Linked DNA regions of Homo sapiens. The protein of the gene in region 4 interacts with the protein of the main gene of each other region in a pairwise test. Each region holds a gene or a part of one and is shown on either strand. Other genes may lie near its edges.

The links.
Region 1: the proteins of UBXN1 (region 4) and LMNA interact in binary tests that used the Homo sapiens proteins (3 or more experiments, as listed by UniProt).
Region 2: the proteins of UBXN1 (region 4) and PLAA interact in binary tests that used the Homo sapiens proteins (3 or more experiments, as listed by UniProt).
Region 3: the proteins of UBXN1 (region 4) and ACOT7 interact in binary tests that used the Homo sapiens proteins (3 or more experiments, as listed by UniProt).

What each region holds. Positions count from the first base shown.
Region 1 is NC_000001.11:156,117,711-156,124,710, reverse strand, and holds part of LMNA (lamin), read right to left. Parts: intron 1-7,000.
Region 2 is NC_000009.12:26,915,925-26,923,558, forward strand, and holds part of PLAA (phospholipase A-2-activating protein), read right to left. Parts: intron 7,424-7,634; coding exon 7,254-7,423; intron 4,461-7,253; coding exon 4,303-4,460; intron 3,606-4,302; coding exon 3,386-3,605; intron 1,325-3,385; coding exon of another isoform or gene 1,242-1,324; coding exon 1,173-1,241; intron 782-1,172; coding exon of another isoform or gene 693-781; exon of another isoform or gene 1-692. UniProt on the Homo sapiens protein: Plays a role in protein ubiquitination, sorting and degradation through its association with VCP. Involved in ubiquitin-mediated membrane proteins trafficking to late endosomes in an ESCRT-dependent manner, and hence plays a role in synaptic vesicle recycling.
Region 3 is NC_000001.11:6,390,473-6,398,248, reverse strand, and holds the start of ACOT7 (cytosolic acyl coenzyme A thioester hydrolase), read left to right. Parts: upstream 1-4,481; 5' UTR 4,482-4,849; coding exon 4,850-4,992; intron 4,993-7,776. UniProt on the Homo sapiens protein: Catalyzes the hydrolysis of acyl-CoAs into free fatty acids and coenzyme A (CoASH), regulating their respective intracellular levels.
Region 4 is NC_000011.10:62,675,853-62,683,302, forward strand, and holds UBXN1 (UBX domain-containing protein 1), read right to left. Parts: upstream 3,222-7,450; 5' UTR 3,072-3,221; coding exon 3,013-3,071; intron 2,892-3,012; coding exon 2,838-2,891; intron 2,750-2,837; coding exon 2,643-2,749; intron 2,557-2,642; coding exon 2,487-2,556; intron 2,267-2,486; coding exon 2,075-2,266; intron 1,981-2,074; coding exon 1,929-1,980; intron 1,783-1,928; coding exon 1,666-1,782; intron 1,154-1,665; coding exon 961-1,153; coding exon of another isoform or gene 866-960; exon of another isoform or gene 788-865; coding exon 738-787; 3' UTR 648-737; downstream 1-647.

The DNA.
Region 1 (7,000 bases), on a different chromosome or scaffold from region 4:
TGGTTTCTTGGCTAGTCTGTGGGTCTGCCACAACTCGGGTAAGGGCAGGATGTGGAGAATTCCCCTCCCTGGCATTTGAGGTGCTATCCCTCTCTGGAAAGGAGACCTTAAAGAGAGGAACTGAGGCTGGGCGCAGTGGCTCACGCCTGTAATCCCAGCACTTTGGGAGGCCAAGGTGGGTGGATCACGAGGTCAGGAGTTTGAGACCATCCTGGCCAGCATGGTGAAACCCCATTTCTACTAAAAATACAAAAATTAGCCAGGCATGGTGGCGGGCACCTATAGTCCCAGCTACTTGGGAGGCTGAGGCAGGAGAATCACTTGAACCCAGGAGGCGGAGTTTGCAGTGAGCCAAGATCGCGCCACTGCATTCTAGCCTGGGCAACAGAGCGAGACTCCATCTCAAAAAAAAAGAGAGAGAGAGAGAGGAACTGAGGGGGGCAGCTGTTCCAGGGACTTAGAAGCCCCTTGAGCCTTCCCCAAACCCCAACCTGTGAAGTTCTGAATATCATACACCTCAAAAGCCCACAGGTGCCCCAGGATGAAACACCCCGACTCCCTCACGCGGGCATGTGCACCCACAGCAGGCATGGCTCTGCTTCCACACGCTTCCCTTGGGCGTGACACCTGCCAAACAGCCAAATATGCCTAGGGTCTGAGGCCTCTCAGATCCCCTACCAGAGCCACTAGGCTCCCAGCTGTCCTTCCCTAAGACAAAGCCAGGTTTTAATTCCAGGCAGAGGGAGGGGCTGAAGTGGGGAGAACTGGTGCTGAGAGAGGGATAGGAAGCCTGTTGACATGTTCAGACGCAACTCCAGTAGAAGTGCTGGGCCTGGCAGGGGGCCAGGCCTGAGTCACAGCTGCTGGGCGTATCAACGTGGCATTGTACAGAGGCAGGAGAAGCCTGAGGCCGGAGGCCAGGGCACTGGGGTCCTGGACAATGGGCGGCTGGCTTCCTCACCAGCCGCCCCCTGCAAGGTCTCCTGCCAAGTGCCACTTTCCTTCTTCCTGGCCTCTCTCTCTAGAAATCATTCCGGTGTTGTCACAAAAATGCAGGGGTGGGGCTTGGGGATAGAGCAAAAGAAGTAGTGCCTGGAGGAGGGAGGGATGGCCTAAGAAGATAGTAGAATGTCCTGAAGGGGGCGGGAGGGAGGCCAGTGACCAAAACGAGGGACATTTAGGGGATTCCCTTCACAAGAAGCCAATTCAGCAGCCCCTTAACTCTCTATCTGGTGGCACATAGTTATTAACCCTGAGGACACTGGGAGAGAGTGGGAGCCACACCCCAAGGTCAGGAGAAGAAGTGAGGGAGGACCTAGGCAGTCTGGTCTCACTGCATTCCAGCTCTAGCCTCAGAAGACACAGCTCTCTCCTAGCCAGCAGAAGGTGGCAGTGTTAGAGCTTTGGGAAGAAAGGGGAGCCTTGGTGACCCCAAATAGCCTCCTTCTCAACTGCCCAGAACCTAGACCCCTTGAAATGAAGTCTAGCTCCCCTGAGCCAGACCTAAAGGAACTCATGTGTCCTATCTCCCTTCCATTTGTCCCCGTCAAATTCAGACCACTGTCCTTCTTGCTGCAACTTGAATGTAGTTCTCAAGAAAAGGCCACCCCTCAGCCTCTGCTTTTCTGACTGGACAAGCTTAGGGTCTCCTGTCCACTCTCCACTCTGCCCTCTACCATGACTCAGCGCCCCTGCCGGGCCTGGGATCTCAGCCAGAATTATTCCTGGCTTCAGCAGGCAGGATTCCGGCTTCCTCTCTCACAACTTGGGGGAGGCAGGGGTGAAGGGAGGACTCCCCTTCCCAAACTCTTTCCCCTTCCTTAAGGGATTGGTAGGGGCCAAGACCTCCTCCCAGCCCAGCCGCAGGTTGGGGGAGCCAGTATGGGTGCTGGAAGGGTAGAAGGTGGGCAGCCCAAGGTCACCGTGCCCCTCCCCCCGGTTCCAGGCACTGTTCTCTAATCCTGGCCAGCTCTAAGGTAACAGTTCTGCCTCTCCTAGGCCTTCGCCCTAGCCCCCAACCCGGGTCAATGGGAGCCATTCCTGTGCCGCATCTCCCGTTCCTACTCTATGACACAGCCCTTTCCACCGTCCAGAAGGGAGAGGCATCGAAAACGAGTTGCCCTTTCCTAGTAGCAATGAAAACAAAACATTTGCCAAGAGGGTAATGTCACAATTTAACCATTTCTAACAAACTTTCACGGGGAAATAGAGAAATGTGGTAGTATGTTTAATTCCACAGCTTGTGGGAAACATTTCTATTGAGAACAACATTAGCTATTAACTATATTCACATTATTTATATTTGATTTTACTATTAATAACTTGGTATTTTAGAAGACTGTTTTCTCACTTTGTGGGTCACTGTACTACTTTGGAACCTAAAAGGTCTCTGGAGACTTTCCGCTCCAATCCCTTTCTTTTACAGCTAAGGAAAGCCAGAAAGGGGAGGCGATTTGCTCAAGGTCACACAGCAATTTAGTGAAAGGGCCACACACAGAACTAAGGGCACCGAGGGCTAGGGTGTCCACTATATCACACTGCCTGTCATTTTGTTGGTGGACTACCTTGCCCCTTATTTATTTATTTATTATTAGTATTATTTTTTTGAGACGGAATCTTGCTCTGTCGCCCTGGCTGGAGTGCAGTGGCGTGATCTCGGCTCACTGCAACATCTGCCTCCTGGGTTCAAGCGATTTCTGGTTAATTTTTGTATTTTTAGTAGAGACAGGGTTTCACCATGTTGGCCAGGCTGGTCTCTTAACTCCTGACCTGAAGTGATCTGTTCCCCTCGGCTTCTCAAAGTGCTGGGATTACAGGCGTGAGCCACTGCGCCCGGCTTGCCTTGCCCCTTATTGAGGGATAAGAGACCCTGCAATCTTCCAGAGATCTCCTATAATATTAGAGTTCGGCCTATCAGTACACTGGGACCCCAAGGAGGTGAGAATGGAATGAACCCTGCCCTTGTGTCTGGGTCTCTGAAGACTTGGTCTTGGCTGCTGCAGCTGCTAGGGGTGGCGAGGGGCTGGGGAGGAGGGAAGCAAGGGGGAGGGGAGCAGAAAGCACAGTTGGTAGGTGAAGGGATCTACCAGTTGTCCATCCAGCTGTCCTGGGCTTCAGCGCAGACACTAAGCTACCGAATCACTGGGGGGTGGACCTGGAAGTGGGGGCAATGGGCACATCCATGGAAGAGTAAGTCTCAGACTCCTGGAGGCCAGGGGAAGTGCCAAGCAAGGGCACCAATAGTGGGAAGGCAATAGGGGGTCCTAGTGAGGAATTATTCTCTCTTTTGTTTCTCTTGGGCTTTTTAAGTACTTCTCACCCCCCAGGTTTAGCTGCACCCTTCTTCTTTCCCTTTGAATCAGAACGTGGATTTGGGCTAGGCTCAGTGGCTCTCAGCACTTTGGGAGGTCAAGGTGGGTGGACTGCTTAAGCCCCAGAGTTCAAGACCAGCCTGAGTAACATGGTGAAACCTGGTCTCTACTAAAAATAGAAAAATTAGCCGAGCATGTGGCACGTGCCTATAGTCCCAGCTTCTTGGGAGGCTGAGGTGGGAGGATCACTTGAGCCTGGGAGGTGGAGATTGCAGTAAGCCAAGATCATGCCACTGCACTCCAGCCTGGGCCAGGGAGCGAGACTGTCAAAAAAAAAAAAAAAAAAAAAAAAAGAATGGATTTGGTGGTGGAGGGTTGGAGAGGTAACACCAGGAGATACCCTCAGATAAAGCCCAGGGCCCATGCATCCTCAAAGGTCTCCAACCCCATTAACCTAATGGGTCTGCCAAAAGGCACAGCTTCCTTTCAATCCGGGTGGACAATTCCCATGACAAGTCTCAAGATAGTCTCAAGACAAGAATCACCAGCCTCCCAGAGCTCTGACCGTCTCACGATTGAGGGGCTGGCAGGGGTCCTGGGTCCAGGTATAGGCTGGAGCAAAGGCTATCGATCATATGCTAACAGGCCCTGCAGGACAGCAGAGTTTTGTTTTGTTTTTTTCTTTTTCAGAGACAGGGTCTTTCTCTCTCCCAGGCTAGAGTGCAGTAGTGCAGTCATAGCTCACAATAGCCTCAAACTCCTGGCTTCAGGTGATCCTCCCGCCTCAGCTTCCCAAGCAGCTGGACTACAGGTGTTGACCGGCTAATTTTTTTGTACAGAAGGGGGTCTTGCTATGTTGCCCAGACTGGTCTCAAACTCCTGGCCTCAAGTGATCCTCCTGCCTTAGCCTCCCAAAGCACTGGGATTACAGGCATGAGCCACGAAGTATGGCCATAGAGCACTAAGGTGTCACTGGCCCCAGAGCAGAGTTTCCAGGCTGCAGAAGTGAGCCTCAGCTACCTGACTTCACCTTACCTCACCCTCTAGATCCTCCCTCCAACCTGTCCCCCAAGCTAGAGAAGTGAGGCTTAATGGTAAGAGCACACCCAGCTGGAAGTCATAAGGCCTGTGATCAAGTGCTGACCCCTTTATTGTGTGACATGGGACAAGCATCTGTGCCTCTGTGGCCTTTGCTGTTCTTGTCTTGATCAGAGCCTACATGAACTGGAGCCTGCATCTCCCTGCCTGTCCACACTGGGGCTGCAACAGTGGGCAATCCAGGAAGTTGTCAAGCACCAGGGCCTTTTTGGAGTGGAAGTAGCGCTTCTGCTTTGTGGGCCTCGGATCTCCCCACTTCTGACTCAGCCTTCCTCCATCAGTTTCACATGGGAAGGCACAGACCCTGGCACTATCCTGCAGCCCAATCCATAACTCTGAACTCAACTCTGGATTCTAATTACTTGTGCATGTTACCTGTCCAGAGAGAGCTATGTGTCCAGACACCACCAGAGGGTCTCAGGAAGGAGCCAGGCAAGGGACTCCAGGATGCAATGGGGAGGGGGGCAGAAGAGGTAGACATTCAGACCACCACTCCTCCCTTTAAGACAACTGCTGTCTCCACCCTGTCTCCTGCTGTCTTCTGTAAAGCCACCAGGGTGGGAGGGAGGGGGGCAGCATCTGAGTCATCCACCCAGCTGCCTTGCCTGGGGTGGGGCCCAGCTGCAAGCCTGGACTCCAGACAGGCTTCCCTGGTGCTTACAACCTTCCCATTCTGCCTGCACTTGGGTATCCAAATCCCTTGGGCTACAGACTAGAAAGAGACAGAGAAGGGGCAGGGGGTACCAGGTGCGGTAGCTCATGCCTATACATCCCAGCACTTTGGGAGGCCAAGGCCAAGGCAGGTGGATTACTTGAGCCTAGGAGTTCGAGACCAGCTTGGGCAACACGGTGAAACCCCATCTCTACAAAATATATAAAAATTAGTGGCCGGGTACGGTGGCTCACACCTGTAATCCCAGCACTTTGGGAGGCCAAGGTGGACGGATCACGAGGTCAAGAGATCAAGACCATCCTGGCCAACATGGTGAAACCCCAACTCTACTAAAAATACAAAAATTAACTGGGCGTGATGGCATGTGCCTGTAGTCCCAGCTACTCGGGAGGCTGAGGCAGGAGAATCGCTTGAACCTGGGAGGTGGAGGTTGCAATGAGCCGAGATCGCACCACTGCACTCCAGCCTGGCAACAGAACAAGACTCCGTCTCAAAAAAAAAAAAAGAAAAAAAAAATTAGCTGGGCATGGTGGCACACACTTGTAATCCCAGCTACTCAGGAGGCTGAGGTGGGAGAATCACCAGAGCCTGTGAGGCTGACGTTGCAGTGAGCTGTGATCATGCCACTGCACCCCAGCCTGGGCAACAGAACAAGACCCTGTCTCAAAAAAAGAAGAGAGAGAGAGTATTGGCGAAAGGGGTTTCTTCTTGGAGCCTATAATCCAGCCCAACAGAAGGTCCCCCAAACTCCTGAGTGTGGTTGAGGTACCCAGGCTGGGTCAAAAATTGCTACAGGGTCTTAAAAACAACTTTCCATCCCAACTCCAAATCTGGCCCTGAACTCTGAGCTCTAATTAAACATTAAACCAGACAACACCTTCTCTCTAGGCTTTGGTGGGAGGGGTTGGGAAAATGCCTTTTTTCCTCTCCCAAATTCTTTACTCTACCCACTTCTCTACCTCACTCTGAGCACAGCAGACCCAGCAGGGAGTAACCAATCCTGGCTCCTCCTACTGTGGGCATAGAAGAGGACAGACACCCCAGTCTGAGTCCCCTTTGTCTTCACCCCACTTTCTATCAGCTTGGGATCCAGGTGTGCAAATCCACCTCTCTTTTCCGGAAGCCCAGCCTTTCCAGCCAGGATCAGTGGGGGAGAACAGAGGGAGGTGGCTAAATATAACAAGTACACACACCACCTCCGCCCTGCCCCACATGCGCACATACCCGCCTGGTGTCCCAGGCCTGGACAGCTGCACTAGGAGGCAGAGGAGACAAACTGGCGTGGCTGGGTGAGCAAGAGAATATCGAATCCACTCAATCTGTTTCTCGATCAAAGTTTTGACCAGAAAACTGCTAAAACTGCTAAAAATGTCCTTCACAGGGCTTTGGTAGATGAGTGGACTAGTTTAGAATGCAACGAATTCTCTGGGTCTCCCCTTCCTTGCTTCCTATCTGTCTTGCTAACTAAATTGTTCATATCACTAGTAGAAAAAAGACAGGCCTGGCGTCAGGCCTGGTGGCTTATGCCTGTAATCCCAGTGCTTCCGGAGGCCGAGGCAGGAGGATTGCTTGAGGCCAAAACTTCGGAACCAGCTGAGCAACATAGCAAGTTTCCATCTTTACAAACAAAAAGCAAAAAAAAAAAAAAAAAAAAAAAAATTAGCCAAGCGTGGTGGTGCCTGCCCTTAGTCTCAGCTATTCCGGAAGGTGAGACGGTAGGATCGCTTGAGCCCAGGAGGAGTTCCAGGCTGCAGCAAGTTATGATTGTACCATTGCACTCTAGCCTGAGCAACAGGGCAAGGCCCTGTCTCTGAAAAATATAATAAAAATAAAGAAAAGGACAGGTGTGGTCTCTTTCAGCAGAATGAACCCAGGAGTTCAAGACTGTGGGCAACATGGCAAAACCCCATCTCTACAA
Region 2 (7,634 bases), on a different chromosome or scaffold from region 4:
TAGAGAGAAAGCCATCTTATCTACTCTTCAGATCCTTACTACCATTTGAAATCACATTATGTTATCAAAGACTTCCTTAACAGCCACTGTGCCATAACAGCATTTAGTGTGATAGTTAATTATTTTCATTTACTTGTTATCAATGCACATGGTACAACCATTTCCATCTGGGCCATCAATAAATTCACAGGAAAAAGGAAGCTCACGGACAGCAATCCACAACTTCATGATGCTGACCTAACGTTGTATGTTTGTCCAATCTCTATGACTTAGAGAGGACTGTAGGTTGTCATTTTTATAGCTCACAGTACCAGTCTGCAAGGCCAGTGGATACCTAAACGCTATGATCTCTTCCCAAACTGAGTATACTGTCGAGGAACTCTGTCTGAAGATCCAACAACAGCATTATACAAGATATCAAAAGCCATTCTGAAAATAGAGACTTCTTCAGCTGCCTTAAAGTCCAACTCTGGCACTTTTTCCAGTAGTGTTGATGCTGAGGCATGCATACCTTGGTAAATAAATTCATTTTGAAGAGATACACCAACACTTCAAGGGCTTCAAGAAGGACATTAATAACTTAGATTAGGAAGACTACTCCTGGGTAGTTGGGTGGAATGTCTCCTTCCATGTTAAGTCAAAATATGCCTGGGGAGACTTCTTGATTGTACTGCTCCATCCAATATCAGGGCTCACATGGCTCCTTCTCTGCTCGTGATTGGTAGCATCTCGCCAGTGATAGCACTCATGCTGTGTCTTGGTTGGTGGGTTCCCCTATTATCTAATTTCACAGATAAAAAAAATAGGCTCAGACAGGTTAGGTAACTTGCCAACTTCTCATAGCAAGTAAGTGGTAGAGCCCAATTTTGAACCAAGGTTTGTCTGACTCTAAAACCTATATTCTTAACTATACTGCTCTCCTGGTGGGAAGGACCCCTGGAGAAAACAATGAATTCTAATAATATGCTATTTAAAAGTCACGAGGGAATCTACACAACCACTCCAGGAAAAAGCAAAAATCAGAAGTTAAAGAAAAGGAAATCCATCAAAATTGGAAATGCAGATAAGGGAATTACCAATTACTGGATGACATCTCCAAGATGTAAAGCCATGTGATGCAAGATGCTATACATTTAGTGAAGAAAGATACATGAATCAAAACTACATCCCACCTGTAAAAGGATCTGCTGTGGGTAGTGTGTTAGAAGATCCCGAAGAGCCCGGAACATACCGACCACCACCTGTGCATGCAAAATAAAGAAAAGGCAGAAGTGCACCAAAGTTCTGAATTTTTCAAACAGCACAATGCTTGTTTTAGAAGAACCTACATTTGGAGAAAAACAGAAGAGCAAAACTTTCACATGATAGAATGACAGAAACTATAGTCAGAAGTCTTATAACTGGGAAAAAACTGAAATTTTAATGATTCTCCAAGTTTTGTTTTCTTAACTTTAATGCTTTATTATACCTTAGCCCCAGCACTTAAATATTAAAACTTAATTCAAATATCAAAAGAGAATTGCAGGTAATATCTGACCTAAATATATAAACATACAATCAATTCCTGTCCCTGTTCCTATACAAATTCACAAGAGTTCCTGCTGTTGTTATTGTTATCAAAACCACAGGCACTAAATGTTAATCATTTAGAGCTCTAGGTTCATTAATTCATGTGTCAAACAATGGACTCAGGGCTGGGGATCCAGAAGGGAACAAAATTGCTTATATCCACTGAAGCTTACAACCTACTGGAGAAGAGAATTAGAAAAGGGATGAAAACTACAAAGGAAAGAGACTTCCATTTATACATTTACGAATGTGTGGCGTATGTGCCTATGTTTTGTTAGTACCTCTAGGGAAATAATCAGGTTGTCCACAAAAAAAACAAAAAACAAAAAACAAAAAACAGTAAGGATGCTGAAAAAGTTAAGAGTCTCAGAAGGGCAAAACAAGCCAAGTGCTTCCTAGATTTCCAGACAAAGTCAGCTGCTTTAATTCCTTTCCTGTATCCCACATGCAAAATAGCTTACACAGTACTACAATCTGTGTTCACTCTTGAACTACAGTCTGAAATTCCAACAACAAAAATATCCACATACTAAACAATTATTTTCTTTTTAAGTGCAAGTATTTGGAGGATCAGATCATCTGTAATTCAGTAGTAAGTTACTTTGATAATTTTTTTTAAAATTTTTTGATTTTTTTCAGACGGAATCTTGCACTATCGCCCAGGTTGGAGTGCAATGGTGCGATCTTGGCTCGCTGCCACCTCTGCCTCCCAGGTTCACGTGATTCTCCTGCCTCAGTTTTCCAAGGAGCTGGGATTACAGGCGCACATCCATCACACCTGGCTAATTTTTTGTATTTTTTTTTTTTTTTTTTTTTAGTAGAGACAGGGTTTCGCTATGTTGGCCAGACTGGTCTTGAACTCCTGACCTTGTGATCTGCCTGCCTTGGCCTCCCAAAGTGCTGGGATTACAGGCGTCAGCCACCACACCTGGCCTGATAATTCTATTTAAATCAACATGCAGGTAACATTAGTTTTATTTTATGAATGGGCAATGAAATTTTGAAGTAGAATGAGGAGATAATTTGGGAATGTGGAGTAGCTGTCAGGGAAGAAAAGGTGGATCTACATAAGGATTTGAGACAGGAATATAATACAAAGTCCTCGTAAAACAAGGAAGAGCACTAGCACCTGAAAAATGTTGAGTCAGAAATGATGAGAGGAAAACATTAACAGTAAAGTGCCTATCTCAAAATGTTATTTAGAGGAGGCATTTTATTTCCTCCTACACCAGTCTCCAGAACTCACGTTAATATTACTAGGATTAGATTCCACTTCCTAGGGGCCAGAATTTGGACTAGTACCATTAGGATTACAATTTACAGACTGGTATGAGCACCTAACTGCATTTATAACATGAGATACGATGTATACGATGTTACAAACAATTAACTTAAAATGAACGTGTAGAATACACATCACATATAAACTAAAACTACCCATAGGGTTCACTTTTAGATTTGATGCATGACTGACCAATTTAGCCTCATGTGAAAAAAAGATTTACTAAATTTTGCCAAAATATAATTTTTTAAAAGAAACACTATATAAAAGAACTTACAAGTTTATTTTTGTTTCAAATAACTGAAATTCCATTATAGTATGATTGTATTTTTGAAAGACAACAATTTACTATTATTTCTGTAAAATACAGAATTACTTCATCATTTGAGGCTTAAACATATGAATGTGAAGTAAAACCCTGCTGTAGATATTGGTATTTATTGAAAAAGCTAATCACATGACTATTTGAAAACATCAAAAAAATCAATCAACACTAATGGAACTACATAAGACTCAATATAAACACTAACTTACCTGTAAATGGATCTGAAAAGCTGGGATTCCCAAGTCCCAACATTTGACCTTTTGTGTTATCAATAATAAATTTAGCTACTTGATCCAGAAACATAGGATTCAAATCATTCTTCTGTAAGAAGTTGTATGCAGTTAACCAAGGGTCATCACTGGTATTATATGGCAATTTATATGATGGTCCACCTTCATTGACATCAATTGAGAAAACATAATCAAATTCCTAAAGTAGGAATATAAAAAGGAGATACATGCTTATTATCTGTTCACATATATTAATGACATATACAACATAACACAGATGTGTTCTTTAATAATTACAGTACTTAAACTTTCTCCAAAGTGCAGTGCTAAAATCTTCGTTTTTGGCAGATAAAGATTAACAGCCCCCATCTGCATGTGATGCAAAATTAGTATTTCATTAGGGGATGGGGGTGAGGATGAAGGATGGATTACAACTACATATTAACTCTAGAGCCAAAGCAGAGTTTCCAACTGGTTTGATATCAAGATCAAAATTATCAGCTGTTACTGTGCCCTACTCACCAAAACGTGCTGGCATTTTAAGCACTGCCCTGCAGGGTCTCTCATGTCTTGTCAAGTTAAATATAGCCAGGCATGAGGCATTTGATGAAAGGTGGCACAGAAGCTCCCAATCCAAAATGGCTGGGAACAGCTTTTGTATAGAAACTACTACATGACAGACAATTGCTAATTTGTCTCTCAAATGCAGCTCTCACTACATGGAAAGATACTTTTAAAATATCTATTTCAAGACAGGGAAAAAAAAGATTAGTTTCCCACAGTAATGGATTTTTAAATGTCAAAACAAAGGAAATTTTATCACTATGGGGCAAAGGAAACCTTTAATTTGCCTAATATTTAAGACAATAGTAATTAGAAAGTAGAAGTCGACATACTTTCCCTTCATATAAAACTTTTCCAGATGTTTGCTGATTAGCACCAGATGAGCCAACAACATCACCAATTTTTATCCACCTCCCTTCACTAACACTCCACTGATAGGCTTCGACTTTCTCCCCATCTCTGATTAGACGAGTCTGTCCTTCTCTAGTACCTTAAAATAAAAATTTTAAGAATCAAAGGTAGAATGGCAATGTAAAATTGAAAAACATTTAAATAGAAAATTCTTAACATTAAAATTTACACATAAGAGAATATGGATTTTGTTTCAAAATAAAATTGTATCAAATAAAAGATTTAAAAATGTGGCCAAAAGAAAATAACAGTTAAAAGGAAATATTATTAATCAAAGGAAGGTTAACAAAACGTGATTCTACTAGGAAGCAACTGGCCCATCAAAAATAAAACAAGTTTTATTAGTGAATATATCTTCCTAACACATTTCATTCCGTAAATGGCTCTCCATTAATCCAGTGGCTCAAACTGAAAAGTAGAAAAGCCTGATACCTTTCTCTCAACCCCATCGCTCCTTCGGCTACTTCTCAGCACCCCCTTCAGCTACTGCTATCAGCTCATTCTTTAAAATATATCTAGAAAACTGTCTCCTTAATATCTCCATCATCATCCCTTGGTCCAAGCCACCATCATTTCTCAGTTGGGTTGATTCAACGGCCTCTTTCCTGTACTCTTGGCCCCCGACAGTGTATATTCCACCCAGCAACTTCAGGAATTTTTTCAAAAGTTTAAGTAGGTCCTGACACTCTTCTGCTTGAAACCCATCAATGCTTTTCATCTCACTTGGTAAAAGCCTAAACTCTTGAGTAGTGTACAAGACCAAATATAAATTGTCCACACTATCCTACATGACCTTACTTTCTACTATTCCCCCTGTCCCCTCATCTCCCAACTTCAGCCACAGAGCCTTTGTATTAGCTGTTTATTCTGCCTATGATGCTCTTCACACAGATATTGGCAGTATTTGCTCCTTTCCCTCTTTAACAACTTTACACAAATGTCATGTTCTCAACAAGGCCTTCAGTGGCGGAGACAGCTATCCATCCTCCGAAGAATCATGCTCTTCTTCCATTAGATACAGCTGTAGTTGTCTAGCCAGAGACTACATTATCTAGTCCCCTTGCATTGGGCAGTCACATGATGTCACATTACTGAGTAATGGTCAGTGGAATCTGGGTGGATGTGATATATGCCAGTTCTGGCCTAGTCCATCATACTTTAATCTCCCCTCTTACCCCATCTTAATCTGTTTCAATTTGTTATTTTGGTTGACTACAAAAAGAAAATCCAGCCTAACACACGTAGGTAGTTGAAAAAGAGAAGACAAGTCTTTTCAGAAAATGTGGATAGGCCAGAAATACTAGTTTTTTAAACGCTACAGTGTACAATCTGAAACCACATCAATGAATTTTTCATGCTCTATTATACTAAAATCCACTGGTCTATCTTGTACTTTGAATGGATCTTTTACCCATGTCTGAGATGGTATCAGATACTAGTCATATGGAAAATAATGGTTCAATAACTTACGCAGATCTTCTGCATATTCATACAGTTTATTATTCAATATTAAAAAATGGCATTTGTTAATGTTATTACCACTAGTATCAATACAAATGGGAAGCTACTAAGTTCCTGGTGGAGATACATTTTTCCTACATTTCAATTTTCACTCAAACACTTGAATTTTATCTTTGGCAACATATATTATCAGTTATTTTCCTTGACGGAACATGCTCAATTTGTTCATTTTCAAAAAACGTCTGCCAAATACCAAAGCCTGAATAACCGTAGTCATTCTTTCAAATAAAAATAGCACTCCATGAAAAAACTGGTAGTTTAGCCTGCAACTCAAATGACTGCGCATGTTCTTTTCTTTGAGACACCACAGTATTTTGACTTACTTTATGTCTACTTTAGGTTTTCTCACCCGGAATATTTAAAAAGATGTGTCAAAATGTAATAAAACTGATAATTCTTAATATTAATACCTCATCAAGGACATGCTTAATGGCAAACTGTTTTTTTTTGTTTTTATTGTTTTTTTTTTTTAAACTACAACTGCATGCAAGTAGAACATAGTAACTTACCAGAATGGTTTAAAGCCCCTGGCTTGATTTACATACTAGTGAACCAGTGGTTTTACCCACCATTGTTTTTGCACCATAAGTGCAAACATTAATACAATGTACAACATTCAAATAATATCTAGTATTACAAAAATTAGTTTTGACCTCATGGACATCCTGAAAGGATCTCAGAATCCCCAGAGGTCCATGAATCAAGCTTTGAGAAGCACTGGTATAATAATGCAATCAAGAGATACATCCAACCCAAGATTTCATTTGAGATGACTACGGTCTTCTGATTTCAAACTCGAATGATTCCCAACTCATTACACAGACAATGCTTGATTTTAACTCATTTTTTTTTTTTTTTGAGACAGAGTCACACTCTGTCACCCAGGCTGGAATGCAATGGTGTGGTGTCGGCTCACCGCAGCCTCAACCTTCTGGGCTCAAACCATCCTCCCACCTCAGCCTCCTGAGTAGCTGGGACTACAAGCGCATGCCATCACACCTGGCTAATTTCGTATTTAAACTCATTTTAATATTCAGTTTGTAACCCCTCTCAGAGAATCCAATCAACCAAAAAGTATTAAATGAGTGCCTTTTGAGTGTCTACTGTAAATGATCTAAGTGTTGGGAGATTTATTTTTTAATTCCTGTTTATGAGAAGCTTAATTCAAAGTCTTCTGTGAGACAGAGGCAAGAACATGGTTTCTCATAGTGATTATATGTAATAGTAAAAATCCTCAAAAATCAGCATCTAGCAATGAAAAACACAAGCAAAACAACATTTATTTTTCTTCTAATTGTTCCAAAAGCCAAATATGGTGAATTTTTTCTACTAGGTACAATAAAATACTTACCAGGTTCATTAAGATGTTCCCTCCCAGGAAGCTGCTCAGCATTGATGTCCCCTAAATCGCCAGTTTTAGAATCAATGGTTGCGTGAGACAGTTCTTTTTCAAAAGCCTTGATTTCTTCAGCACTTGCTGTTCGATCTTCTGATTCTGTAAACACTCTAATAATGCCATCACTGTAAGGAAAAATAAACTGATTTTAGAAGTCATTGCCATAATACATTAACATTATCACACCTGAATGATCCATAGTAAAAATAATCTGTGTTTGTGAATATGAGAAATATTAGCATGTTATTAATTGCTGATTACAGCACTGTGCTGACTTCAGCACATGCTACTCTATTATGTCAACTATTTAATAGAGAAGTTATTGACAAAGAACAG
Region 3 (7,776 bases), on a different chromosome or scaffold from region 4:
GAGGTCGAGGCTGCAGTGAGTTGTGATTGCACCACTGTGCTCCAGCCTGGGTGACAGAATGAAACCCTGTCTGAAGGAAAAAAAAAAAAAAGTGATGAGACAGAATGAGACCTCAAGAGTTCAAGCACTGCTTGGGGCTTGTCTAAAGTTCTGACAGGAGGCAGGGAGGCAGTGCCAGCAGAGCAGGCTGAGCAGTGGCCAGCGAGGGAGGAAGACGGACGTGAGGGAGGAGCGCTTCCAGGATAGGGAGGTCACATCTGCTCAATGCCGTTGAGAGGTCAAGGAAAATGACTTCTGACAACAGATTATCGGATTTAGCAACTTGGAAGGAATTAGTGACCTTGATAGATTGACTGGTAGAATCAAAAACCAAACTGGAACAGGTTCAAAGGAGGATGGGAGGTGAGGGGAGAGGGTGTGTGTGTAAGCAGCTCTTTTGAGATGTTTTGCTGAAAGCAGGGATAGAAATGGCCCATAGCTTGAGGAGCAAGTAGAAAATAGCCTAACACGAGAAGGTGAGACTGTGGAAGGTGCAAAATCAGTGTAAATCCATTAGCACTATGGCCAAAATCATTCACAAGGTTTTTGCTGAGGAATTGGGCGCCCCCATTGCCATCCTTAAAAACAGGGCAACATCATAAGTAGTAATCTGGAGCACTATTTTCTTTCTACAGTGCAGAATGGGTACATGATAATCTCTGGGCTGAGCTGTTATCTTTTCTGGGTCCCTCTACCACCTTCGGGGTAGTGATGTGAGCAGGAGGGACAGATGCTGTCTCAGGTGGAAGGGTAGCCACACCCTTTCCCAAAAGTATAGGAACTGTTCCAGATCACTTTTTGGCCTCACTCTGGAGGGCCCAGGCTATTTCATTCTAAACCACTTGGCCCATCCTTGTCTAAGATTCCCTCTGGTTCAGTGTGTGGCTGGAATCTGGCTTTTTGTGTCCCTGATTTGTGTCCCAAGCAGCATTTGAACTTTTTTTTTTTTTAAGAGACAGAGTCTATGTTGCCCAGGCTGGAGTGCAGTGGCTGTTTACAGGAGCCATCAGAGGGCACTGCAGCCTCAAACTCCTAGGTTCAGGGGATCCTCTTGCCTCAGCCTCCTGGGATTATGGGTGCAAGCCCCCATGCCAGGCAGATTTAGAAGATTTTGAACAATGAAGTGTCTGTAATGCTCAGAGGAGCAAGCACACCTATACAGGGAGCATGGGGTCTTAGTAAATTCTTGCTGCACTCATAGCTGGGGGAAGAGCAGTATAGAGAAACAGAAGGTTTGAGGAGGGAAGAGGAAGAAAGGCCCTACCTCAGCCTGCCAAGTAGTCCTCACAACGGTCAGGAAAGTATTTATCACCCCCATATCATAGGTAAAGAAACTGCCAGGCTGGGAACAGTGATGCACACCTGTAATCATAGCACTTTGAGAGGCTAAGGCAGGTGGATCACTTGAGCCCAGGAGTTCAAGACCAGCTTGGGCAATGTGGTGAGGCTCCTTCTATACAGAAAAGTACAAAAATTAGCTGAGCATGGTGGCACATGCCTGTGGCTCCAGCTACTCAGGAGGCTGAGGTGGGAGGGCTGCTTGAGCTCTGGAGGCAGAAGCTGCAGTGAGCAGGGATTGTGCCACTGTACTCCAGCCTGGGTGACAGAGCCAAGACTCTGTCTCAAAAGATTTAAAAAAAAAAAAAAAAAAAAAAAGGAAACTACCTTGCCTGAGGCTCTAAATCTAGTTACTGCTTCCAACCATTTCAGGATTCAATTGGGAAGAGGTGGTGTTTGAACAGGCTTGGGGGCCCTTGATGCTTGCATCAACTTAATTCTCACTAAAAAACAAAAGTCTGCGTCCGGACGAGGTGGCTCAGGCCTGTAATCCCAGCACTTTGGGAGGCTGGGGTGGGTGGATCACCTGAGGTCAGGAGTTCAAGACCAGCTTGGCCAACATGGTGAAACCCTATCTGTGAGAGGTGACAGCATGCTGGCAGTCCTCACAGCTCTCGCTCGCTCTCAGCGCCTCCTCTGCCTGGGCTCCCACTTTGGCGGCACTTGAGGAGCCCTTCAGCCTGCCGCTGCACTGTGGGAGCCCCTTTCTGGGCTGGCCAAGGCCGGACCCGGCTCCCTCAGCTTGCGGTGTGGTGTGGAGGGAGAGTCGTGGGCGGAACCGGAGCTGCGAGCGGTGCTTGCGGGCCAGGGCGAGTTCCAGGTGGGCGTGGGCTCGGCGGGCCTCGCACTCGGAGCCGCGGCCGTCCCCGCCGGCCCCGGGCAGTGAGGGGCTTAGCACCTGGGTCAGCAGCTGCTGTGCTCAATTTCTCGCAGGGCCTTAGCTGCCTTCCCCCGGGGCAGGGCTCGGGACCCGCAGCCCGCCATGCCTGAGCCTCCCCCCACTCCATGGGCTCCTGTGCGGCCCGAGCCTCCCCAATGAGCACCGCCCCCTGCTCCACGGCACCCAGTGCCATCGACCACCCAAGGGCTGAGGAGTGTGGGCACACAGTGCGGGACTAGCAGGCAGCTCCACCTGCAGCCCCAGTGCGGGACCCACTGGGTGAAGCCAGCTGGGCTCCTGAGTCTGGTGGGGACATGGAGAACCTTTATGTCTAGCTAAGGGATTGTAAATACACCAATCGGCACTCTGTATCTAGCTCAAGGTTTGTAAACACACCAATCAGCACCCTGTGTCTAGCTCAGGGTTTGTGAATGCACCAATCAACACTCTGTATCTAACTACGCTGGTGGGGACTTGGAGAACCTTTGTGTCGACACTCTATCTAGCTAATCTGGTGGGGACATGGAGAACCTTTGTGTCTAGCTCAGGGATTGTAAACACACCAATCAGCACCCTGTCAAAACAGACCACTCTGCTCTACCAATCAGCAGGATGTGGGTAGGGCTAGATGAGAGAATAAAAGCAGGCTGCCCGAGCCAGCAGTGGCAACCCACTCTGGTCCCCTTCCACGCTGTAGGAGTGTTGTTCTTTCGCTCTTTGGGTCCACACTGCCTTTATGAGCCGTTAACATTCACTGTGAAGGTCTGCAGCTTCACTCCTGAGCCAGGGAGACCACGAACCCACCAGAAGGAAGAAACTCCAGATGCGCCACCTTAAGAGCTGTAACACTCACCACGAGGGTCCGCGGCTTCATTCTTGAAGTCGGTGAGACCAAGAACCCACCAATTCTGGACACATCTGTACTAAAAATACAAAAATAAGCCAAACGTGGTGGTGCATGCCTATGGTCCCAGCTACTCAGTGTGGTTGAGGCAGGAGAATTGCTTGAAACTGGATGGCAGAGGTTACAGTGAGCTATCACACCACTGCATTCCAGCCTGGGCGACAGAACGAGACTCTATATCAAAAAAAGAAAACAGGCCAGGCGTGGTGGCTCACGCCTGTAATCCCACCACTTTGGGAGGCAGAGGCGGGCAGATCACAAGGTCAGGAGATCAAGACCATCCTGGCTAACACAGTGAAACCCCGTCTCTACTAAAAATACAAAAAATTAGCCGGGCGTGGTGGCAGGCGCCTGTAGTCCCAGCTACTTGGGAGGCTGAGGCAGGAGAATGGCGTGAACCTGGGAGGCGGAGCTTGCAGTGAGCTGAGATTGCACCACTGCACTCCAGCCTGGGCAACAGAGCAAGACTCCGTCTCAAAAAAAAAAAAAAAAAAAGAAAACAGAAAAACAAAATTCTTAGTATAAAAGTCTTGAAATCACAGAGTTCTGACTTTGACTGCCCCTGCTTCTGGGAGCTACAGATCATGCTGTGGGCTGCCTCCACGGTCTGGTAACTCAAGGGTGACCGGGGTGAGGCACAGTTCCTTCAGAGCTACCTAGCTGAGTGTAAATGGGTTGTTCAAATTGCACTAGGGAGCCGGAGTTGCGTGGGTTTTAATTTAAAGATGTAAGTACAAATCTATGTGCATTGTAGAAAATTCGGAAAAGGTCCAACTGCCTAGCAAGTAAAAAGCTGTCATTCCAGCACGTGGGGGGTGACCGCTTCTCCCTTCTTGGGTGTTTTTTGGTGGATTTTTTTTGGTGACCCCGACTGGCCTAGACTCCATTCAAGGGCACATCTTGTGCAGTAAAACACGCATGTTTCAGGGCTCCTCACTGCAACACGTGCACCTCCAGGCTGGCGCTCAGCGCTCCCAGTAAAAGCTGCAGGCGGCGGTGTAGATAGTCGCCGGCCTTTCCTCCTCCCCACCTCGTGACGCTTTGTGCTGCGGAAGCAAAGGCCCGTTCCATTCCCCGTGTCTTCCCAGCAGCCGCCACCAATGCTCCTTTCTAGGAAACAGCCTTCCATTCTCTCTTAGGGCCGATCTTAGCGAGAGCCGCGATGCGGGCGACTGGTGCCGGGGTGGGTTGGGGGCGGGGGTGGGAATCAGGCCCCACTGCCAGGAGCCCGGGCCGCGCCTTCCGCTCTGACCTCATCCGGCCGCCCAGGCACTGGGCGCGGCAGCGAATCGGCGGCGCGGGCGGCCGGGAACGCCCAGCACAAATATTTACCGCCGCGCGGAGAGTGAGGGCCCAAGTCCGCCCTGCTCCGCCACTTAGGCCGCCCCAGACGCTTCCCTCGGGGCTGCCACCGGGTCGGGCGCGGCTGCCGCGGCTAGCGGGCCTTCCCCGCACCGGCGCGGCCCAACCGCCACCGAACCTTCTGGAAGCGGCGGCTGCCTGGGCCCCCACGCCGCCAGAATCGTACGCCCGCGCGAGCTCTCTGCAGCCTTGGCGGCCTGGGAGGCGGGGCTCGGGGTGGGGCCGGCGCGGGGGCGGGGTCGGCGCGGGGAGGCCGCGTTCGATTGCCCCCGGCGCGCAGGCCCCGCCTCACCAGCCCCATCGCTCCACCTCTGCCCTCCCCCTTTATGGCGCGGCCCGGGCTCATTCATTCCGCGCCGGGCCTGCCAGACACCTGCGCCCTTCTGCAGCCGCCCGCCGCATCCGCCGCCGCAGCCCCCAGCATGTCGGGCCCAGACGTCGAGACGCCGTCCGCCATCCAGATCTGCCGGTAAGAGAGGGCCCGCGCGCAGCCTGCAGCGGCCAGGCGCGCCGGTCACCGCCCCAGGCCTGCCCCGCTTGGCTCTGTGGTCCCCACCCGCCGAGGCCGCCCCCGCCCGCCGATTCCCCGCACGGCCTTCCGCGCCGCCGCCCCGGACGCCCGCCCGGCCGGGATGCGACTCGCGATGCCGCACAAGCCGGGCGGCCCCCGCCCGCCTCCAGCCGGCTCCTCCTGGCCGCATCTCCAGGGCGGCGGCCGCGCCACGGGCCGTTTGGGCGAGAAAGCCAGGCAGGGACGGGGCGGGCGGAGGTCAATGCACAGCTCCAGAGCCCGGCGACCGGCGCCCGTGGGCCGCCCCGCCTCGGGCCTCGCCCGAGCATCCCGGAGCCTCAGCCCCGTGGTCCTGCTTAGCCTCCTCGAGGATTCGGGATCATTACCTCGGCGGTTGTGCTGCGCTAACCAAAGCCCCCAGAGGTGGAGGGGAGGTGCCCAGAGCCGCGCGAGCCCCTCGGTGGGTGCCCCTGTGGGAGGAGGTTGCAGAGCTACCGTCTTCAGTGCACTGCTTCGGTTTGGGGGAGGGCAGGTGTTGAAAGGAAGAACAGATAATACTGTCTACCTCTAACAGTTTACTATGAAGAAAAGGGAATCAGTGGTCTGTTGGGCCTGAAAGCATCTTACACAATAGAGGCAAAGGGTTGTCCTTCTAGAGCACCCCCTCTTCTTCCACCAGGTACTGAGTAGATAGATGCAGGCCCCCAGAGGAAGCTGGAGGCTGGAGATCATGAACAAGCTCATTTCCCATAGGAGGTGGGGAGGGCAGCCTGAAGGTTACTCTGCAGTTCTCTTCGGCAGAATCGGAAGCAGCAGGCTGGCATTTGTGCATGAGCTAAGTGAGGACAAGGAGTCTAGGTTTTCAGCCACTGCACACAGGCTCTGTGGCCTGCGACCGGTCCTATCCTGCTTGATGAACTACCAGGAGTGAGAGCTGCTTTCTGTTTTGGTAGTGGGTTCCTCACATTTGGGGGTTGGGCATCACAGACTGACCTTGGGCTCAAGCCAAGTCCAATAGAAGCAAGTTACTTTCCTGTAGATGTTGACATCTCCAGGAAGGCTGGGCATATAGCAAGTCCTGGGTCTATGGCGATTCTTGACTCTCAGTCTCATCTTCTGGCCTGGTCGAGGGCCTCTCCTTACCTCAAGGTCGGTTTTGACTTTTCCAGAGGGGGAACGTCTTTGGGGGAGCCCTGCCCCTTTGACTTTGGCTCTGTGGCTGTTCTGGTCCCATCGACTCTGGAGGTGGGGAAAGCGGGGCAAAAAAAAAAAAGGAAATAACTGGAGACAGACAGCCTGCATCAGGTTCCTGAATCAGCTCTGCTGAGTATTGGCTGGGAAACTTGGGCTCCATGGTTTGCAAAGAGCTTATACCTGTCTCATCCCACTTGGTTTGCCCAATTCCCTGGGAGGTTGATGGTCGGTAGTGCCACCCTTACCTGTGTGGAGGAGGAAATGGCAGTTTTGGGAGTTGAGTAACTGTGTAAGGTCATCCTGCTCCAGGAGATCCAGGGACAGCCCCTGCCCAAGTCTTCTGACTCCAGATCCAGTATTCTTCCCACCCCTCTCCTGAATAAAGGAAACCTTGATTTAAATCTTCCCGTGGAAGGCTGGCCTTTTATTTACTTCTTCAGGGTGGTGAATAGCCAATTTATACATGTTGTCTTTTTTCACCCAGCTTCTAACAGTTACTAGATTTTTTGTTTTTTGAGACAGAGTCTCACTCTGTCACCCGGGCTGGAGTGCAGTGGCCCGATCTCAGCTCACTGCAACCCCTGCCTCCTGGGCTCAAGTGATTCTTGGGCCTCAGCCTCCCGAGTAGCTGGGACTACAAGAGTGCGCCACCACGCCTGGCTAATTTTTGTGTTTTTAGTAGAGATGGGGTTTCTCCATGTTGGCCAGGCTGGTCTCGAACTCCTGACCTCAGGTGATCTGTGATCTGCCCTCCTCGGCCTCCCAAAGTGCTGGGATTACAGGTGTGAACCACCGCACCCAGCTGGAAAAAGTTCTTGTGCCTCAGCCTCCTGAGTAGCTGGGACTACAGGCGTGCGCCACCACGCCCAGCTAATTTTTGTATTTTTAGTAGAGATGGGGTTTCATCATGTTGGCCAGGCTGGTCTTGAACTCCTGACCTCAGGTGATCCTCCCGCCTCAGCCTCTCAAAGTGCTGGGATTACAGGCGTGAGCCACTGCTCCTAGCCTAGTTACTAGATTTTTGTATAGCTTTAGACACTTCCATACAGTAAGTGTGTGCTTTTTGTTTGTTTGTTTGTTTGTTTTTGAGACAGTCTCGCTCTGTCACCCAGACTGGAATGCAATGGCACGATCTCAGCTCACTGCAACCTCTGCCTCCTGGGTTCAAGCGATTCTTCCACCTCAGCCTCCTGAGTTGCTGGGATTATAGGTACCCGCCATCATGTCTGGCTAATTTTTGTATTTTTAGTAGAGACGGGGTTTCACCATGTTGGCCAGGCTGGTCTTGAACTCCTGACCTCAGGTGATCTGCCCGCCTCGGCCTCCCAAAGTGCTGGGATTACAGGCGTGAGCCACTGCGCCTGGCCCGTGTGTGTGCTTTTTCTTACCCACTGTAAACCAAGTCTGCTATCTCAGGTTCACAATTGCATATTGTTTCTTTATTTTTTGGAGATGGAGTCTCACTCTGTCACCCAGGCTGGAGTGCGGTGACACACTCTCGGCTAACTGCAACCTCTGCCTCCTTTGTTCAAGTGATTCTCCTGTCTC
Region 4 (7,450 bases):
CCCCAAAGCTGTATCAAAGTTGTGCATATTTCCAAACATTTTTAAAATGAAAAGGCACTCTCATGTTCTCAATAAATAAATAAATAAATAAATAAATAAAGCAGCAGGCCGGGCGTGGTGGCTCATGCCTGTAATCCCAGCACTTTGGGAGGCCAAGGCAGGCGAATCACAAGGTCAGGAGTTTGAGACCAGCCTAGCCAACATGGCAAAACCCCGTCTCTACTAAAAATGGAAAAAATTAGCTGGGCGTGGTGGTGGGTGCCTGTAATCCCAGCTACTAGGGAGGCTGAGGCAGGAGAATCGCTTGAACCTGGGAGGCAGAGGTTGCAGTGAGCTGAGATTGCGCCACTGCACTCTAGCCCAGGCAACAGTGCAAGACTCCGTCTCAAAAATAAAAATAAAAAAGCAGCAGCTGGGCTTTTATTTTCTGTCTTACCATAGGAGTAAAAGGTGCCATCCAATGTACTCTCCACCCCTTTTAGCACCTCTCCTCCGCAACTTCCCCAGCAGTTAATCAGACCCAGAGATTACAAACAAGTGTCTTTGTTGGAAACTAAAGATGAGGAAGAGGGTCTACTGTTCCGTTTTAGCCTCTTCCTCTGCCTTAGTTTTGTCCCTCCCAGCCATTCAGGAAGGAGTCAGGCATGTACAGAACTCAGGGTCTATTTATTAGGAAGGAGATGTCAGTGCTTTATCAAAGATGAAGGGGTCACAGAGGGACAATGGGACAAAGGCCCTCAGCTGGGACATTTCTTGGCCACAATGAGAACAGCAGAAGGCACGAGTCCTGAAGATGGAAGAAAACAGGCTTGAACCACAAGGATACTTGGTTTTTGCTCCCAAAATTCCTGGCCTTGCACCATGTTCACAAAGCCCCTTCTCTTTGCATCCCTCCTTTTCCTAGGCATGCCTCCCTACTCCCCCAGTTTCTAGTCCTGGTTTCTAGTCTTGCAGCCATACCCAGCTCCTGCAGAGGCCGCTCCATGTCAGCTTCTGAGAAGGCCCGTCTGGGGAAGCCACTGAGCAATTGCACAGGGTCCTGGCCCCCACCTAGTTCCTCCCCACGGTGGAGCTCCACATAGAGCCTCACAGCTGCCAGCTGTTCCCGGGCCCGGAACGTCTGGGTCAGTGAGGTCCCATCTGGCAGCCTGACCTAAAGGGCAAGGGAGATACTCAGTATTGTGGGCATCAAAACTGAATGAGGTGCCCAAGTAAGGAAAAGAGCTAAAGCTGGGCCCCCTTCTTCTTAGATTGAACCAGCACAACTACTATTTAAAGCACCAAATGAACAGCCACTTAGGCTCCGCTTTACTAAGTGCGGATGAGAGACTCCCAGCTCCCTCACAACCTAAGAAAGACAAGGATAAGATTATACAAAAGAATCTGGATAAATACCACATCACCAGATAGCTACATAATAAACCAAATAAAAACATGAACAAGTAAAAGGGTAACTGCTGAGTAAGAGAGAGGTATGGGTTTAAATACAACTGGGGCAGGTGAAATTTGATACCTTTCCCAAGAGTAGAGATAGGATTTCAAAAGTCATTTACAAAGAAGGGAGAGATTTGGCAAAGGGCACGTTAACTGAAAAAAGCTCTGAGCTGGGCACCTTAACACGGAACAAAGGGGTCCCAAGAGGAAGATAAGAATTAGAATCAGTACCTGTATGCGACACTGGTCATACTCCCGCTTGGTGGGAGGCTCCTGGCTGGGAGAAGAGGGAACAGGACCTGGCTCTGGTGCCACTGGGGGTGGCTGAGAGCCCACACTGCCACCATACTAAAGGGCAAAGTAAAACAGTCAATCAGGTACTCACCCATCCTCAGGTGAAACAGATCATATAAGCCCATGCTTTCCCTCTGAAGCTGGAAAAGATTTACTAACCTGCCCACTCCATTACCCGTGGCGTCTTCTCAGTCACCTACCTTCTTGGCTCTCTCTGCTTTGTCCCTCTCGATCTTTTCTCTAACTCTTTGTCTGAAATGTAGACAAGAAGAAATTAGGTCAGACATCAACAAAGCAAATCTTGATTTCTTTCTCATCTGCTATCCATCATTTCCCCTGCCCAGACCTGGCTGCTAACTCCTCGGCCTTTTCCCTCCGCCTCTCCTCAGCAGCCCGGCGCATCTCATCTTCCTGTAGCCGCTGTCGTGCTGCTGACAACTCTTGCCCTTGTCTCCTGCGCTGCCGTTCCCGTTCCAATGCCTCCCGTTCCTCTCTTTCTTCACGCTCCCGCTGCTTCTGGGCCACCAGCTCCAACATCCTGTGTTGCCGAGGGAAAACAGTTCAAGAGAAATGGACAGAGTGGGAAGGTGTAAAGTTTACAATAAACAAAATTAGGCGACATATATCCCAAAGTAGATTAAAGGAAAAGAAAATGCCAAGAAAGAGGAAATGTGGAAAGGTCAAGGTTCTTTGACCAGACGTGTACTGGGGAGAGATGGAAGACGACCCTCAGACACGTGAGATTGTTGTTACTGTACCTCTTAGTTTGTTCCTGTCTTTCCTCTTCACTCAAAGCGGGTTTGCCTTCTCCGGCAGCAGAACCAGATCCTACAAACAAACAATCGGTATTATTATCCCTTCAGATTCTCCTCGGACCCTCCTGAATAATCACACCGTGGACCCTCAGTCAGGACCTTCAAGGCCGCCTTGCTCTGAGGAAGTGGGCTCCCGTCCCAGGATATGTCCAAGGGGAGTCTCTAAAGGCTCGTCCACATCGGGGTCGTCTTCGTGCTCCATCAGCCTGGCAGGGAAAGTGGGCGGGGAGGTTAGCTTTGAGGCTGCCCCTCCCGCCAGCCCCCAATTCTCCGCCACCCGGGACGAGCGCTTACCAGTCCATCGCAGCCTCGATGCCCTGGTTCCCTGTGAGGGCCAGAGCCTTCTCCCTGGGGGCAGAAACACCATGAATAGCGCCCACGAGCCATGGTGACGGTCAGGCTGGGGCAAAGGCCGAGACAGGTCCGCGACCCCCCACACCCGCAGGCCGGGGTTGGGGAACTCCCTTACGCGCGTCCCCTGGGGAAGCCCATCTCGATGAGACTCTCAAGAGCCGTCAGCTCCGCCATGGCGCCGACACCGCGGCTTCCGCGGGGACCTGGTGTGTGACGAGAAGGAGGGCGGGAAGGGTCAGCGCGAGGCAACCCGCCCTCGACACCCGCCGACGGGCGCTCGCTCTCTCACCCGGCTCTATAGCAGCCGGGAACACCGACGAGAAGAAAGCCGAGGGGAAGCGGAAGTGCCGGATCTGTTTGGGTCACGTGGGGGCGGATGTCGACGGGTGCCGCTGAGAACCATAAAACTTCTGGCCCTGCTGCCAGGACTTTCCGTGGGTGGGAACAGGGAGGCAACCCACCAAGCCAAGGCGCCAGGCTGCTGTGGGGAAGAAAGCTGGTGCGGCTCTGAAACCCGTGGGCGGAATGAAGCCAGTTCCCGGAACTTCATCCTGCCTCACCCTCCTTAGAAATTAGAAGGAATATGGTCCCTTAGCGCAATGCTTTGGGAAGTTCTTTGGCAATGTTTGCCAGGAGCAGAAGAAATGTCTTGCTCTTTGGCCCACTCATTCTCCTTAGGGAATTGAGCCATCCTCTGCCTGACTGCCAAAGGGATTTTTGCAAAACACAATCATGTAGTCCTGTCTTCACCTCCCTGCTTAAAAATCCGTGACACTTCCACCATCTAGGACAACTTACTTTTTTTTTTATTTTTTATTTTTGAGATGGAGTTTCACTCTTGTTGCCCAGACTGGAGTGCAATAGTGCAGTGGCGCGATCTCTGCTCACTGCAGCCTCCGCTTCCCGGGTCAAGCATTTCTCCTGCCTCAGCCTCCCGGATAGCTGAGATAACAGGCGCCCACCACCATGCCCAGCTTTTTTTTTTTTTTTTTTTTTTTTTAAGAGGGAGTCTCGCTCTGTCGCCCAGGCTGGAGTGCAGTGGCGCGGTCTCGGCTCACTGCAACCTCCGCCTCCTGGGTGCATGCGATTCTCCTGCCACAGCCTCCTGAGTAGCTGGGATTACAGTCCCACGCCACCATGCCCGGCTAATTTTTGTATATTTAGTAGAGACAGGGTTTCATCATGTTGGTCAGGCTGGTCTTGAACTCCTGACCTCATATGATCCACCTGCCTCGGCCTCCCAAAGTGCTGGGATTACAAGCGTGAGCCAACGAGCCTAGCCATTTTTGTATTTTTAGTAGAGATGAGGTTTCTCCATATTGGTCAGGCTGTTCTCGAACTCCTGACCTTAGGTGATTCACCCACCTCGGCCTCCCAAAGTGCTGGGATTACAGGCGTGAGCCACCACACCCAGCTATTTTTGTTTTTGAGACAGGATCTGGCTCTGTCGCCCAGGCTGGAGTGCAGTGGTGCAATCTTGACATACTGCAACCTCAGCCTCCTGGGCTCAAGCGATCCTCCCACTTCAGCCTCCCAAGTAGCTGGGACTACAGGCACATGCCACCACACCCGGCTAATTTTTCTTTTTCTTTTCTCTCTCTCTCTCCTTTTTTTTTTTTTTTTTTTTTTTTTTTTAGACAAAATCTCACTCTGTAACCCAGGCTGGAGTGCAGTGGCACAATCTCAGCTCACTGCAACCTCTGCCTGCCCCGGGTTTAAGCGATTCTCCTGCCCGAGTAGCTGGGATTATAGGTGGCTGCCACCGCGCCTGGCTAATTTTTGTAGTTTTAGTAGTGACGGGGTTTCACCATCTTCACCAGGCTGGTCTTGAACTCCTGACCTCATGATCCACCCACCTTGGCCTCCCAGAGTGCTGGGATTACAGGTGTGAGCCACCGCGCCCGGCCTAATTTTTCTATTTTTTGTAGAGACGGGGTTTCGCCATATTGGCCAGGCTGGTCTCCAACCCCTGAGCTCAAGTGATCCACCTGCCTCGCCCTCCCAAAGTGCTAAGATTAAAGGCGTGAGCTACATACTCGGCCATCTGGGACAACTTAAATGCTAGTGGTCTGACTTCCTTCTGCGCCCACCTTGGCTTTTTTTGCGGGGAGGGGGGTTAGAACCCCCTCTCAAGTGGAGATCACAATAGCACCTACTTTGGTGCCTGGCAAGGCAGAGTATGTAAATGCTGGTAGTTATTGTGCAGTTTCATCACCCACCACTTGAGGGTAAGCTGTGCATATTGCAAACCAGACTTCACCCTCCTCTTGGCCTGTGCACCAACCAGTCTCCGCCTAGGATGTCCTGTCTCTTCACTTAGTAAACTAACTCCCAGGAGTTTTTCAGGATTCAGGATTTGCCTTCTAAGAAAAGCCTGCTTTGACCACTGCTGTCTGCCTTCCAGCTACAGTATTTAACCCATTAAGCATTTATCCCCACTGCTGTGAGTCACTGTTGATTACTTTGTGCTCCACCACTACCCGGGCTGTTAGATTCCTGAAAGTGAAGCTCACTTTAAATGTTTATTAGAAGGTAGAGTAATAATGACAATAACAGTTACTGATATTGATAATATATGCACTAGAGACTTGTGTGTGTGTGTGTGTGTGTGTGTGTGTGTGTGTGTGTGTGTGTGAGAGAGACAGGGTCTCACTTTGTTGCCAGGCTAGAGTGCAGTGGTGGGATCTTGGCTCACTGCAACCTTTGCCTCCCAAGCTCAAGCTGTTCTCATGCCTCAGCCTCCCGAGTAGCTGGGATTACAAGCACCCGCCACCACATCGGGCTAATTTTTGTATTTTTTAGTAGAGAAGGGGTTTCATCATGTTGGCCAAGCTAATCTCGAACTTGTTACCTCAGGTGATCCACCTGCCTCGGCCTCCCAAAGTGCTGGGATTACAGGCGTGAGCCACCGTGCCCGGCCTGCTAGAGAATTTTGTATGATTAATCCATATTTAATCATCACAACAATCCCTATGATGTAGAAGCTATTTTTAGTCACAAAAAAACAGACTCAAGGCCAGGCATGGTGGCTCACACCTATAATCCTAGCACTTTGGGAGGCCAAGGCGGGTGGATTACCTGAGGTCAGGAGTTCGAGTCCAGCCTGGCCAACATGGTGAAACCCTATCTCTGCTTAAAAAAACATAAAAATTAGCCGGGCATAGTTGCAGGCTCCTGTAATCTCAGCTACTCAGGAGGCTGAGGCAGGAGAATTGCTTGAACCGAGGAGGCGGAGATTACAGTGACCCGAGATCGTGCCATTACACTCCAGCCTGGGCAACAAGAGTGAAACTCTGTCTCAAGAAAAAAAAATAAAAAAACAAAAAACAGACTCAGAAAGATGTTTTTTTTTTGGCCAGGCACGGTGGCTCACGCCTGTAATCCTAGCACTTTGGGAGGCTGAGGCGGGCAGATCATGAGGTCAGGAGTTCGAGACCATCCTGGCTAACACGGTGAAACCCCTTCTCTACTAAAAATACAAAAAATTAGCCAGGCGTGGTGGCACACACCTGTAATCCCAGATACTTGAGAGGCTGAGGCAGGAGAATCACTTGAACCTGGGAGGCGGAGGTTGCAGTGAGCCAAGATTGTGCCATTGCACTCCAGCCTGGTGACAGAGTAAGAGGCCGTCTCAAAAAAAAAAAAAAAAAAAAAAAAGGAAAGATGGGTTTTTTTCTGAGACAAGGTCTGGCTTTATTGCCCAGGCTGGAGAGCAGTGGCACAATCTTGGCTCACTGCAACCTCCTTCTCCCAGGCTCAAGCCATCCTTTCACCTCAGCCTCCCAAGTAGCATGTACCACACCTGGCTAACTTTTGTATTTTTATTATAGTAGAGGTAGGTTTCCGCTATGTTGCCCAGGCTGGTCTCGAACTTGTGAGCTCAAGCCATCCCCTGCCTTGTGCTGGAATTACAGGCGTGAGCCACCATGCCCAGTGCTGGAATTACAGGCGTGAGTGCTGTAATTACAGGCGTGAGTGCTGGAATTACAGGCGTGAGTGCTGGAATTACAGGTGTGAGCCACCATGCCCAGCCAAGATGAGATAATTTACCTAAAGTCACAAAGTAAATAACAAAACTAGGATTCAACCCAAGGCAGTGTGTGTTCTCTAAACCACTATGCTATGTTGCCTCTCCACGGTAGAGTGACAAGCATGGGCTTTATTTTTTTATTTTATTTATTTATTTTTTGAGACAGAGTCTCCGTCTCAAAAAATGAAATAAATAAATAGTAATAATAATGAGATAGTATGACCTCTCGTTATTTGTAAATAAATGAATGCTAAGGAAGGCCGGGCACGGTGGCTCATGCCTATAATCCCAGCACTTTGGGAGGCTGAGGCGGGCGGATCACGAGGTCAGGAGATCTAGACCATCCTGGCTAACACAGTGAAACCCTGTCTCTACTAAAAATACAAAAAAATTGGGCGTGGTGGCAGGCGCCTGTAGTCCCAGATACTCAGGAGGCTGAGGCAGGAGAATGGTGTGAGCCCAGGAGGCGGAGCTTGCAGTGAGTGGAGATCACGCCACTGTACTCCGGCCTGGGAGACAGGGA